2 linked regions of the Homo sapiens genome follow. The protein of the gene in region 1 interacts with the protein of each later gene in a biochemical or structural test. Each region holds a gene or a part of one and is shown in the gene's direction. Other genes may lie near its edges.

The links. Proteins that work in one complex are often made in the same cells at the same time.
Region 2: of the proteins of NMT1 (region 1) and CABP1, one has a biochemical effect on the other in vitro, tested with the Homo sapiens proteins (one study listed by BioGRID).

The regions. Positions count from the first base shown.
Region 1 is NC_000017.11:45,099,297-45,106,330, forward strand, and holds part of NMT1 (glycylpeptide N-tetradecanoyltransferase 1), read left to right. Parts: intron 1-108; coding exon 109-217; intron 218-3,654; coding exon 3,655-3,825; intron 3,826-4,412; coding exon 4,413-4,580; intron 4,581-5,562; coding exon 5,563-5,700; intron 5,701-6,322; coding exon 6,323-6,343; 3' UTR 6,344-7,034.
Region 2 is NC_000012.12:120,657,603-120,664,636, forward strand, and holds part of CABP1 (calcium-binding protein 1), read left to right. Parts: intron 1-2,275; coding exon 2,276-2,306; intron 2,307-2,593; coding exon 2,594-2,737; intron 2,738-3,128; coding exon 3,129-3,238; intron 3,239-3,468; coding exon 3,469-3,616; intron 3,617-7,034. UniProt on the Homo sapiens protein: Modulates calcium-dependent activity of inositol 1,4,5-triphosphate receptors (ITPRs). Inhibits agonist-induced intracellular calcium signaling.

The DNA.
Region 1 (7,034 bases):
CTGATGTGTCTCTCACGCCACCTGCTGGCCAGCTGGGGTCTCCCTGCCATTGTCCTTGTAATAGGGATTGGCCAGAACCCTGAGGACAGGACATTTGTGTCCCCACAGGTATTGGCATCGGTCCCTAAACCCACGGAAGCTGATTGAAGTGAAGTTCTCCCACCTGAGCAGAAATATGACCATGCAGCGCACCATGAAGCTCTACCGACTGCCAGAGGCCAGTGCTGCCCCGGGTGGTGGGCAGGGGGCAGAGAGAGGGCAAGGAGAGCCTGGCTGTCAGCAGGAGAGAAGGGCTCTGGGTGGAGAGGGAGCTTTCTCCTACTGGAAAAGCGAACCAGCCCATAGTCTTCAGATTTCCTGGACTTTCTATTTCTGTTATCTGAAGCAGGATTTTATTTTAGTTTAACTTTCTCAGTTCCTCTGAGTCTGTGCCTGGACTAGCTTCTCTGCCATCTGTTGAAAGGCTCAGAGAACACCTATTCTCTGTAATTTTAGCCTAAGTAAAGCATAAATAGAATGATGAATCCACTTAGTGAACCTTCATACACACGGCAGCGCGTTCCAAAGCCCAGCGCAGATGCACTACAGGGTCTGTGACGCCCCTCTGCCGGGTCAGGTAAAGGGTGACCTGAGCTTGTGAGGGATCCCCGATTTCTAATCCCAATTTCCCCACCCAGATTTGGCTGAAGGACTGGGCAACCTTAAAGTGAGCTGCTTTTCTGTTCTGGGTCTCAGTTTTCCTAGTTTCCCAAAGAAACAAATGCTCCAACTGTGGCTGGCTTCAGGTAGGGATTCTTTTTTTTTTGTTTTGAGACAGGGTCTCATTCTGTTGCCCAGGCTGGAGTGCAGTGGCACAGTCACAGCTCACTGCAGCCTCGACCTCCCAGACTCAACTGATTCTCCCACCTCAGCCTCCCAAGTAGCTGGGACTACAGGCGTGTGCCGCCATGCCCGGCCAATTTTTGTTTTTATAGAAACGGGGTTTTGCTGCCAGGCGCAGTGGCTCACGCCTGTAATCCCAGCACTTTGGGAGGCTGAGGTGGGCAGATCACGAGATCAGGAGATCAAGACCATCCTGGCTAACACGGTGAAACCCCGTCTCTAGTAAAAATATAAAAAATTAGCCAGTCGTGGTGTGGTGGGTGCCTGTAGTCCCAGCTACTTGGGAGGCTGAGGCAGGAGAATGGCATGGACCCGGGAGGTGGAGCTTGCAGTGAGCCAAGATCACGTCATTGCACTCCAGCCTAGGCGACAGAGCGAGACTCCGTCTCAAAATAAAAGAAGCCTGGGCGTGGTGGCTCACGCCTGTAATCCCAGCACTTTGGGAGGCCAAGGCAGGCGGATCACGAGGTCAGGAGATCGAGACCATCCTGGCCAACACGGTGAAACCCTGTCTCTAATAAAAATACAAAAAATTAGCTGGTCGTGGCGTGGCGGGCACCTGTAGTCCCAGCTACTTGGGAGGCTGAGGCAGGAGAATGGCATGAACCTGGGAGGCGGAGCTTGCAGTGAGCCAAGATCGCACCACTGCACTCCAACCTAGGCAACAGAGCAAGACTCCGTCTCAAAAAAAAAAAAAAAAAAAAAAAAAAAAAAAAAAGAAGGCCAGGCGCGGTGGCTCACACCTGTAATCCCAGCACTTTGGGAGGCCTAGGCGAGTGGATCACGAGGTCAGGAGATCGAGACCATCCTGGCTAACATGGTGAAACCCCGTCTCTACTAAAAATACAAAAAAAAATTAGCCGGGCTTGGTGGTGGGCGCCTGTAGTCCCAGCTACTCGGGAGGCTGAGGCAGGAGAATGGCGTGAACCCGGGAGGCGGAGCTTGCAGTGAGCTGAGATAGCGCCATTGCACTCCAGCCTGGCCCACAGAGCGAGACTCCATCTCAAAAAAAACAACAACAACAAAAAAAGGATTTTGCCATGTTGCCCAGGCTCATCTGAATTCCTGGGCTCAAGTGATCCACCCACCTCAGCCTCTCAAAGTGCTGGGATTACAGGCATGAGCCACTGTGCCCATCCCAGTAGGGATTCTTAAAATCCCTTCTCAGGTGGGCGGTGGCTCACGCCTGTAATCCCAGCACTTTGGCAGGACAAGGCGGGTGGATCACGAGGTCAAGAGATTGAGACCATCCTGCCAACATGGTGAAACCCTGTCTCTACTAAAAACACAAAAATTAGCTGGGTGTGGTATGTGCCTGTAATCCCAGCTACTTGGGAAGCTGAGGCAGCAGAGTTGCTTGAACCTGGGAGGCAGAGGTTGCAGCGAGCCGAGATCGCACCATTGGACTCCAGCCTGGCGACAGAGCAAGACTCCGTCGCAAAAAAAAAAAAAAAAAAAAAAGGAAAGAAAGAAAAAATCTCTTCTCTTTCCTCGGAGTGCTTCTTCCTATTGGTCATCAGTGCACACAGTCACTGCGTTCCTGCTGACATGAGGCTGCCTGCCTGGACTCCTCAGCCTCTAAACAGGATTGATCACTCTGAAATCAGGCTAATCCACCTAGTGATTGGGGTCATTAGTGTCCCATCTTGAGAGACTGCTGCAGTACCGTTAGACACTGCCAAAAGCACAGGCTTGGGGGACTGTGGTATGTGTCTTCTCCCTTCTGTTCTCATGACAGATCTGCCTTGCGTTCTAGGCCGGTGGGCAGGCAGGCAGAGAGCATTCTTAGAGTGCTGCAGCAGCAGAAGAATGTCTCACCCATGTCTGGGTGGAAACCCCAGCATGGCTGTGTTTTCAGTCCAGGATTTGAGGTATCATTGTGGGAGCTGCCATGTAGAATGAGGTCATTGAGCGTTCCCCTAAAGAGACGAGGATTTAGCAAGGAATTTTAGAGGCTGGAGGTTCTAGAACTGAAGTTTTAAAAGCAATTCCTGCACTGGGAAGCATTGTGTCAGGCACTGACTGAGGCCTGTAAACTGTGACACCACCCTGTTTGCAGATTGCCCCAAGGCCACCTTTGTGTATCTGAGCCTCTGGGGATGTTCTACCAGCCCCGGTATTTGCTCCACAGGATCACATGGTTTCATTCCACTGAAGCATTTTTCTAGCAAAAGCAGCTGCCGGGTGGGACGCTGACTGGGGATAAAATCCTGGGAGTATGCTGCTTTTCTTCTGAATGTAACCCACAGCCGTGTCTCTCTGGGAAGTACTGGTGTAATAGTGTCTGGGTGGGCAGACCCTGGCTGGGCCCTGGGGTCTGTCCGCGAAGTGCTCTAAGTCTAGCAGAGAAAGAGCAGTGAGTGTGGGATGGCATCAGTCACAGTTCAGTGAGAAGCCTGTGAGGACTGTTGGGCTGCGTGGGCAGAAGGTACAGCTAGAAAGGCCAACCTGGCCCAAGGGTAGAAATTCTTGTCTTCTGGGGTGGGGAGTTTGAAACAAGGGTGGAGCATGAAGGGTTGTGTTTTCTTAGGGAGTCAGCCTGGGGCCATGTAGATGGTTGATTGATGTAGCAGTCTGAGTCTGCCTGGACTAGGAGGGAAAGGGCCAGAAGATACGGAAGAGGCAGGCCCTGTGCCTGAGGAGATATGCACGGGGGTGCAGGGAGCCGCCGAATGACCAGGGATTCTCTCTTGAGGGCCTGATCTGTCCTTGCCATGGATAGATCCAGGGTGATCAGCTCATCTCACTCCATCTCTTCTGTCTTGCCTCCAGACTCCCAAGACAGCTGGGCTGCGACCAATGGAAACAAAGGACATTCCAGTAGTGCACCAGCTCCTCACCAGGTACTTGAAGCAATTTCACCTTACGCCCGTCATGAGCCAGGAGGAGGTGGAGCACTGGTTCTACCCCCAGGAGAATATCATCGACACTTTCGTGGTGGAGGTGAGTCAGGGAGTGGTGTTCCAGGTCTCTAACACGTTCCCAGAGAGGCACCCCCCTGAGTGGCCGGGTTCCCAGGGCTCGAGTGTTGGCACCTTAGACTTCCTTGACCATCCGTGTTTGGTCCTCCCTAAAAACAGGGAGTTGGTGCTTGAATTTGCTGAAAAGATACCTCTGGATCTGGCTTGAGCCCTTCTCCCCCTCTGCCCCACTTTGATAACACAAAATAGAGAGAACTGAGCCCCGCTTAATCCTTCAGGAAAGCCTGCAATTCCCTGCCTGTCCCAGCTTAACCCAGTGCTGACCAGACATAGGAGACACAGTCTGGGGGGATGTGAGCTGCAAGAAGAGGTCCCTGGCGGTGCCCATGCTGGGAAAGAGGTCTGGCAGGTTCAGCCCACGATCACGGCTCTGTCCTCAAGTGCCCTGAGCCAATGTCCCTCCTCCTCCCCACATGTCCTGTTGCAGTTTCCAGCCATTTATCTAGAGGGGCAGAGCTGCCTGAAGGTGGAGTGAGAGAAACATTTTGTTCCCGGGCCGCAGTGCCACTGTGCATGCTTGACATTGCCTCTTTATTGCCTTCCCTTCAGAACGCAAACGGAGAGGTGACAGATTTCCTGAGCTTTTATACGCTGCCCTCCACCATCATGAACCATCCAACCCACAAGAGTCTCAAAGCTGCTTATTCTTTCTACAACGTTCACACCCAGACCCCTCTTCTAGACCTCATGAGCGACGCCCTTGTCCTCGCCAAAATGGTGAGGAGCAGACGGGGGGGTCTCTGGAGATGTGCAGGGAAGAGGCAGTGGAGCCATGGTGAGCACAGCTCCCGGGACGCAGCCTCCCATGGGCTGGAGGCTCTGAGCCCTCCTCATCTGTTCTGCTTAGGCAGGGTTCCCGCAGTTTTTAGGCAGAAACTCAAAACTTGGAGGGAACAAGGAGCATCCGAAGTGAAGGCATTGAACTCCTCCTGATTCATTTCAGTGAGTTTCGTTCTCACAGGAGGCGCCACCAAGGAGCCTGAATAGCCAGGCCTTCCCTGGGAGGACAGGGCTTCTCCTCACAGCTTTCCCAGCGTGGGAAAGGGGTGATTGCTGTCTGTCGTGGTGAGTCATTGGAGCATCCAACTGCCAGTAGCGGATGGCGAGCCCGTCTGTCAGTGCTTTGCTGTGGGTTCTGGTAACCTGTGCCCAGCCCAGCCCAGCCTGCTGTAGGCAATCTGGTCCCTGCCCTGTGAGAGCTTCTGCTCCAGTTGGTGAGGTTTAGGAAGCATCTTCACAGTCTCCAAGCAACACAGCAGGTGTCATACAACATGAGGTGCACTGAGGGCCTGAGAGTTGGGGCATCCATGGAGTAAGGAAGCAACACAAACCCCATGTAGCTGACCAGAGCCAGCTTCTCAGAGGAATGGGCTCAGGGTTTGGACTCCAGAGAGGACTGTGGAAATTACTAGAGTTTCAGGGAGGCATAACCAGGAATAGCAAGAGCCCCGGCCTGGACACTGAGTACATATGTGTACACTCTGAGGGACACTGGGCAGAGGCCAGGCTGGAGGGGGCGCTCAGAGTGTCCTGAGAACCACCCGGAGAGCGGGGATTAACGTGGAAGCAGCGGAGCTTCTGAGGGAACCTTGTTCTTGTGGCTGCCCACAGGACAGCTTTGAAATGGCAGCAAAGGGGTAGGAAGGAGGCTGTCCCCACCTGTCCTCACCTGTTCTTGTTTGTCCCTGCTGCTTTGCAGAAAGGGTTTGATGTGTTCAATGCACTGGATCTCATGGAGAACAAAACCTTCCTGGAGAAGCTCAAGTTTGGCATAGGGGACGGCAACCTGCAGTATTACCTTTACAATTGGAAATGCCCCAGCATGGGGGCAGAGAAGGTAGGCGACACATAGCCAGAGTCCAGGCTGCCCGGCCCAGGGTGTCCATGTCTCCAGCAGAAACCGGGCCATGGGTTGAGGAGACAGCCGCAGTCTGGGTCCTTGTTACCTCGAGTTGAACCTTTGAAAATGCCCTCCCTCTGCTGGCCAGACCAGCAGGTCAGCGTTCCCCTCTCAGCAACTGGTGTGAGGATGGCAGAGGGGACAGAGCCACACAGTAGCACGAAGATCATCTCCAATGAGGCCTTCCCACGTGAGGGAACCGTGGAAGTTGAGTTGCCCACGGTTTGCCAGGAGGGTAGGGCTGGGGGAACTCTGAGGAGGTTTCCTCTCCTGAGCTGCTGCCCTCTTCTGGCATGACACTTTCTTAGCCCTTCCTCCCCCAGTGCCACAGGGGACATAGGGGTGAGCTGGAGCGTGGGCCAGTTTTCCCTGGGAGGTCTGATGGACGTGTGAACCCTGGTGTGGAGGTTGAGTGTGGGGCCGGCTGGGTGTGAGTCTGCTCCCACAGCACAGGCGGTGGACCCGGGCCCAGCCACTCGGAACTTCAGGGATAGGGGGTGTGGGAGAGTCTTTGGGCCACTGTCAACTCAGCTCTGCCTCTCCCTGTTGGCTTTCCTAGGTTGGACTGGTGCTACAATAACCAGTCACCAGTGCGATTCTGGATAAAGCCACTGAAAATTCGAACCAGGAAATGGAACCCCACCACTGTTGGTCCAATTTTCACACACGTGAGAATCCCTGGCAAAGGGAGCAGAACTGAACCGGCTTTACCAAACCGCCAGCGAACTTGACAATTGTATTGCGATGGCGTGGGCTGCGTGACGTCACCTCCGGTCGTGTCTCTGGTCTCCGTGTTTTCCAGTTAATTACATCCTCATGCAGCCGTGATCAAGGGAATGTAACTGCTGAAAACTAGCTCGTGATTGGCATATAATGGAGTTAACGGGTGAATAATAAAAGTATATATATATATTATATATATATAAATATTTTAAATATCTTTCATGTTCCAAATGTACAAGGATGTTTGGTCTTTAATGAAAAGCTGAATCCAGATCATTCCTCAGAATGAGGACCCGAGGACAGTGGCAGACAGACGCGTTGGCACAGTTCATGGTTTCCTCCAGAGGAGACATTGGCTTATCATGGGGAAAAAGAGGATCTGGAGAACCTCATCCAGCTCCCCTTCTGAATCAGCTGGGATGACTGGCTTTGAGAAGGAAGGGAAGATGGAACAGGCTCAGATCTCATGGGATAGCACGTGGAGCTCTTGGCTGGGGCTGACCCTGGGCAGGGACTTTCCTGCAGGGCCAGACCTGCCTGCATTCTGA
Region 2 (7,034 bases), on another chromosome or scaffold:
AGTGGGCATCCCTGGCTCTACTCCAGGGCAGAGAACACACATAGCTACTGCTGTGCATGGGGTGTGTGATCCAAGGACCAGCCATCAGTGCTCAGCAGACCAGCTCTGGTGGCGGGCACACTCCGTGAAGGGGCACCTGGCTTTGCTGCCCCCGGGGCTTTGGGTGTACAGGAGGAACGGAAGGGGCTGCCATGGGGTCAGCAATGCCTGTTCCTCCCGAGTCCTGCAGAACTGGGCCTTGGAGAAGTGGGAGGCTGCTTAAGGCCTGATGCGTGGGAAAGGATTTATTGGGTCTCAGTAGCTGGTCCTAGGGCGTGTGCTCTGCATGTATGTGTACACACGTGTGCTTACTCACTCGCTTTCACAGACTGCTGGTATGACCCATTGCACAAAACATCCTTTTTGGTCACCCAAAAACATCTACGAACATATGGGTTTGTGTTGGAATGGCTGTGACCTACCCTTAAGCCAGGCACCATCACCAGCTTTTTTTTTTTTTTTTTTTTTTTGAGACAGAGTCTCACTCTCTTGTCCAGGTGGAAGTGCAGTGGTGCAATCTTGGATCACTGCAATCTCTGCCTCCCAGGCTCAAGTGATTCTCCTGCCTCAGCCTCCCGAGTAGCTGGGACTACAGGCGTGAACCACCATGCTTGGCTAACTAAAACAAGGTTTTTTGGTAGAGACGAGGTCTCACTATATCGCCCAGGCTGGTCTCGAACTCCTGGCTTCAAGTGATCCCCTCGCCTTGGCCTCGTAAAGTGCTAGGATTACAGGCGTGGACCACCGTGCCTGGCCCATAGCGAGCTTTTTAGGTGAACGTCCATGCAGTCATCTCAGAGACACGCCTCCCTATGGGTGACTCCTACCCCCAGCCTGGCGGAGCTGGGAGCTTGCAGCCTGCTCCCTCCAAGCTCACACACACTCTCAACGCTGTCCTGCCACACAGAGCTACCTCTGAGCTCTTGGTCCTATGCACCTGGTTGTCCCATGAGATGTGACTCAGCAGCCCTTCCCTTTCTAGATGATCTGCAGATTTTCTGGTGTTGTCGTCTTTTGTCCTGGGGCCAGTTTGGAGTGGCTGTCTCTACTCATCCTGGCCCCGTTGGCTGGAACGGCCTGCATGCACAGTGGAGGTGCCACACGCTCACTGTGGCATGCCTGCGTGTCTGTGTTCGTGGGAGGTATGGCCATACCTGTGTGAGCCTCTTCAGGACGGGCACACCTGCCTGGTGTCCTCCCTGCCCAAAGGCAAAGAGCTGCAACATGCGGGAGGCTGGACGCTGAAGGCCACTTTTGGAGTCTACTAACCAGGTCCAGCTGGGCACCTGTATCCATTTCATGCCAGTCTATCTCCCTCCTGGGCAGGCCCAGGGCAACTGGCAGCTCACCAACCTGAGCTTCCTCCAGGCCTGCTCCTTGGAGATGTCTCTGCCATCTGTTCTGACGCCTAGATTCAGGGTTGCCTTGATTGCCCAGGAGACCTGGGCACTGCTTGAGGCTGGAGACATGTGCTTTTTGGACCCTGGCTCCAGCCAGAAGCACTGGTGGCCCCCGGGGTCCTATGTGGTGTCCTGTGATCCCATGACAGGGGAACGTACAGGGATGGGGGTCAAATTGGAGAAGGTGGGGCAGTGCCCGCGAAGCAGTCACAGCCCCATTCTGTTGCCACGTCTCCTCCTGACTCCTCCCTGTCCTCCTACCCTCGCTTCAGGATGGCCCTGCCTTCCCTCCCCTCCTGCGCCTCTTCTGTTGTCTTGCAGCCTCTGTCGCCCTGCTCTTCCTGTTTCATTGGGTGGTGCTCTCTTTTCCCTGTTGTGACCTCCCTGGACTCTGTTTTATTTGCAGGTTTTTGCCACCAGGCAAGCTCTGTTCTCTGACTCATTCTTTTTTTGTTTTTTTTTTTTGAGACAGGGTCTCACTCTGTTGTCCAGGGTGACAGAGTGCAATGGCACCATCATAGCTCACTACAGCCTCAAACTCCTGCTGACCCATTCTTGTATCTGGAACAAGGGGCTGGAGGCACAGAGGTTCTGTGCCCAGGCTGGTGGGGCTGGTGGCTTCTTGGGCATCTCCTGTTAGGGGCCCAGGAGCTTCTATGTCTAAGGGAGATGTGGGGCTTTCTTCTCCCCTCAAGGACCTGATCCAGGCACACCTGTGCTGCATCCTCGTCACCTCCTACCCAGTGCCTGCTGCCACGTGGATGGCCCCCAGGTTAGGTATTTTGTGACTTCCAGGTCCCTTGTCGCGGCTAATAGGACATGTTCTTTTGTTTCAGGATAGATCACTGCGACCAGAGGAAATTGAAGGTAAAACTTGGCCCCTTGGGGGAAAGGACTGCCTAGCCCTCTAGGAAGGTGTGGGAAGGGAGGTTGATGGGAAGAGAGGCCCCTGGAAATGGGGCCTGGTGCAACGCGGGGTATCTTCTGTGAAACCAGCTGCTGAAGGTGTGCACAGGAGGCAAGAGAAATGCCCCAGCATCCTGGGAAGCTCCTGGGCCTCTCTTTCCATGCCGGTGGGCCTTTGGGCTGCCTTTGCCCACAGAGGCTCTGCGGGTCCTACCCCTGACCACATCCACCTTTGCTCACTTCCCCAGAGCTCCGAGAGGCCTTCAGAGAATTCGACAAGGACAAGGATGGCTACATCAACTGCCGGGATCTGGGCAACTGCATGCGCACCATGGGCTACATGCCCACCGAGATGGAGCTCATCGAACTGTCCCAGCAGATCAACATGAACCGTGAGTCCCTCTACCAGGCATCTGCGTCCCTTCGGTCCTCACCCTTGCCGTCCTCTGCAGTCAGACAGGACTGGCTTCAAATTCTGCATCCACCTCTTACCAGCTCTGTGATCTGGGGCCAACCACTTACCCTCTCTGAGCCTCAGTTTCCTCACCTGTAAAATGAGGGCCGAATTGGAGGAGTGGAGCCCAGAAAGTAGATTAGGGAATATCTGTAAAACAGCCCAATAACTGGCTCACAGGAAGAACTGAACAGAGGGCTCTTGTTATTATTAAGTTTGTCTCTATCTGATGAGCAGGTCAAGGAGGGGTTGTCCATTCTGTCAGTTGTCTAGTTGGAGACAGGGAATGGGTATGTCGGGGATGACCTAGCCCTTTCCTCCTTTTCCAGTGGGTGGCCATGTAGATTTTGATGACTTCGTGGAGCTAATGGGGCCTAAACTCCTGGCAGAGACAGCAGATATGATTGGTGTAAAGGAACTGCGAGATGCTTTCCGAGAGGTAACGGACAGAGGCAGGCAGGCATGGGGCGGCTATTGGAATCCTATCTGCAGTATAAATACTTCAAAAGAAGCCTGAGCCTCAAGTCCCAGATCAGGGGAGGGAGCTTGGACAGAGAAAGGTCTCTGGTAAAGGGGGGCAATGACACTGGAGAAGGAGCTCAACTTTGGGATCTGCTGCTGCCAATCGCCATGCTGGGGCGACCTCTCCTTCCTTCCTGCCTTCTCTAGTTTGACACCAATGGTGATGGGGAAATAAGCACCAGTGAGCTGCGAGAGGCTATGAGGAAGCTCCTGGGTCATCAGGTGGGACACCGAGACATAGAGGAAATTATCCGAGATGTGGACCTCAATGGGGATGGACGAGTGGACTTTGAAGGTAGGTGGGGCTTGAAAGTGGGAGAGAAGCAAGCCAGCAGTGGCCATCCATGGAGCCCTCCAATTGTGTATCCATCATGCAACCATCAATCCGCCCTAATTTTCCAACCCCCAGCCCTTTCATCCTCTTATCCCTCCGTCCATGCCCCCGTCTAATCCATCTCCCATCCCTTCCCCATGCATCTATTCATGCATCTGTCCATCCATCTATCCATCCTCTACCTTTCCATTCATCTGTCCATTTATCCATCCATTCATCTACCTATCTATCCATCTGTCCACCATCCATCCATCCATCCATTTATCTACCCATCTATCCATCCATCCATCCTCTACCTATCCATCCATCTGTCCATTTATCCATTCATCCATTCATCTACCTATCTATCTATCTGTCCATCATCCATCCATCCATTTATCCATCCATCCATCCGTCCATCCATTCGTCTACATATCTATCCATCCATCCATCCATCCATCCACCTATCCATCCATCTGTCCATCCATTCATCTACCTATTCATCTATCTGTCCATCTTTCCATATCTATCTCTCCATTTTTCATCTGTTTATCTCCTTATCTGTCCAGATGCCTATTTATCCATTCCTCCATCTCTAAGCAATCATTCCTATAGCAATTTATCCATGCATTTATCTGTCCATTCGTGCATCTATTCATTCTTCTCTACATTCACCCATGAATCTATCTATGTATTCATCTACTCATATAGATCTCTCTATGTGTTCACACTTCTATACTTCCATTCACACATTCATGTCTCTTCGTCTGCATATACTTCTACCCATACTTGCATTGATCTATCCATCTATCTGTTCAGTCATTTCCTCATCTATATCCATCTACTCATCCATTCACCCATCCCTGTGTCCATCTGCACCCATCCTTCTCTATCCATTTATCTGTCTACCCACGCATGCATCCATCCACGGTAGGTGTTTTCTGAACATTACATTCCTCAACTGGACACTCAGGCTCCCTAAGATCTGACCACAGCTCACCTCCCCAGCCACAACTCAACAGTCCTTCATTCACACTCCACCAAAATACTTGTGATCAGTGAAGCTGCTAGGGTCCCTCTTGAATACACTGATCTTTTTGCCAGGAGGGCTTTTTTGTTGTTGTTTGTTTGTTTGTTTGTTTGAGACAGAGTCTCACTCTGTTGCCCAGGCTGGAGTGTGGTGGCAGGATCTTGGCTCACTGCAAACTGCGCCTCCCAGATTCAAGTGATTCTCCTGCCTCAGCTTCCCAAGTAGCTGGGATTACAGGCGCCCACCACCATGCCCGGCTAATTTTTGTATTTTCAGTTGAGACGGGGTTTCACCATGTTGACCAGGCTAGTCTTGAACTCCTGACCTCAAGTGATCCACCCGCCTCGGCCTCCCAAAGTGCTGGGATTACAGGCGTGAGCCACTGTGCCTGGCCACCAGGAGGGCTTTTATCCTGTTCTTTTTTTTTTTTTTTTTGAGACAAAGTCTCGCTCTTGTACTCCAGGCTGGAGTGCAATGGCACGATCTCAGCTCACTGCAACCTCTGCCTCCTGGATTCAAGCGATTCTCCTGCCTCAGCCTCCCGAATAGCTGGGATTACAGGCGCCTACCACCACGTCCAGCTAGTTTTTGTATTTTCAGTAGAGATGGGGTTTCACTATGTTGGCCAGGCTGGTCTGGAACTCCTGAACTCAGGTGATCCACCCGCCTTGGCCTCCCAAAGTGCTGGGATTATAGGTGTGAGCCACTGCATCTGGCCTATCCTGTTTTTTACTTGGGCTAAGTTCTGTTAGCCCAAGGGACATTCTTCATGACTCGACAGTGGGACTCCTTCTTCTAGCACCCTTCCCTGGTTCCTCAAACTGAACTTCCTCTTTTCTGGGTTTTCACAGCACGTCAGGCTCACCTGTTCTTCACACTGTCCCCTAACTGCTGGTTAGAGTTGTCTTCCCAGTTGACTCTGAACTTTGAAAGAAGAACCCTATTTTCTTAATCACTGCATTTCTTGCATAACACAGCTAGTGCTCAGTGAAAGGTTATTTATTTATTTATTTATTTATTTATTTTAAGACAGGGTCTTGCTCTGTCGCCCAGGCTGGAGTGCAGTGGCGTAATCTCGGCTCACTGCAACCTCCGCCTCCCGGGTTCAAGTGATTCTTGTGGCTCAGCCTCCCGAGTAGCTGGGACTATAGGGGTGCACCACCATGCCTGGCTAATTTTTTGTATTTTTAGTAGAGACAGGGTTTCACCATGTTGGCCAGGCTGGTCTCGAACTCCTGGCCTCAAGTGATCCACCCGCCTTAGCCTCCCAAAGTGCTGGGATTACAGTCGTGAGCCACCGCGCCCAGCCTCAAAGACTTTCTTTTTAAAGAATCAATAGTAATCATAATAGTTATAATTTACTGTACACTTATGTGCAGTCATTGTACTAAGTAGCTTTACACATATTCTTACATTTAATTCTCAGAATGACTCTATGGATTGCATTATTATAACCTCATGTTACAGATGAGGAAACTGAGGCTCAGAGAAGTAATATAACTAGCTCAAGATTGCCTGCCTACTAAGAGGCAGAGCTGGGGCACAGCCCCAGGCCTGAAATCACAGCAGAATGCAGTCTTGTGCATGACGCCATGTGAGGCACTACGGGATACAGGGAAAGGGTAAAATGTTGACTCTGCACACCAGGAACTTGCATTCTGAGCAGAAAGACAAGATAAGCATGTGCCAGAGACCGTGAGTGTCCAGAACACAAAGGCTGGGAGGTTTTCTCTCAGGAGCAGTTGGCCTTCAAGGCCAGGGAGCGTGGATAGTTGGAGAGAAGGCTTTGTTATCACCAGATCTGGAAATCTCAGGTCTCCCTGTATCCAGGTAGCGCCCACCACAGATGACAGCCTTGCTCTTGAAAGCCTGGCATCCCCCATTCATCCTACGAGGATGCATTGTACATCTGCTGTGTGCTAAGATCTGGTCTCTGCCTCGAAGAGCTCAAAACCAGCAAGAAAACCAGAGAAAACAATAGCATAATCCATGTGTGCTGGGGGAAGCACAGGGGGCTGCTATAGAGGGGGCGCCTGTGCCAAGTTGCAGGGAGGGATTAGGGAAGACTTCCTGGAGGAGGTTATAAATAATTAGAGCCCCCCAAAATGGGAAGAGCCACCAGGTGAGAGGGAAGGGCAGGTATTTACCCAAATGAGTTGAAAACCTATGTCCACACAAATCTGTACATAGATGCTTATAGCAGCTTTATTCATAATTGTCCAAACTTGGAAACAACCAAGGTGTCCTTTCAGTAAGTGATGGATAAATAAACGGGGGCACATCCAGACAATGGGATATTGCTCAGTGCTAAAAAGAGATGAGCTAGGCCAGGCGCTGTGGCTCATGCCTGTAATCCCAGCACTATGGTAG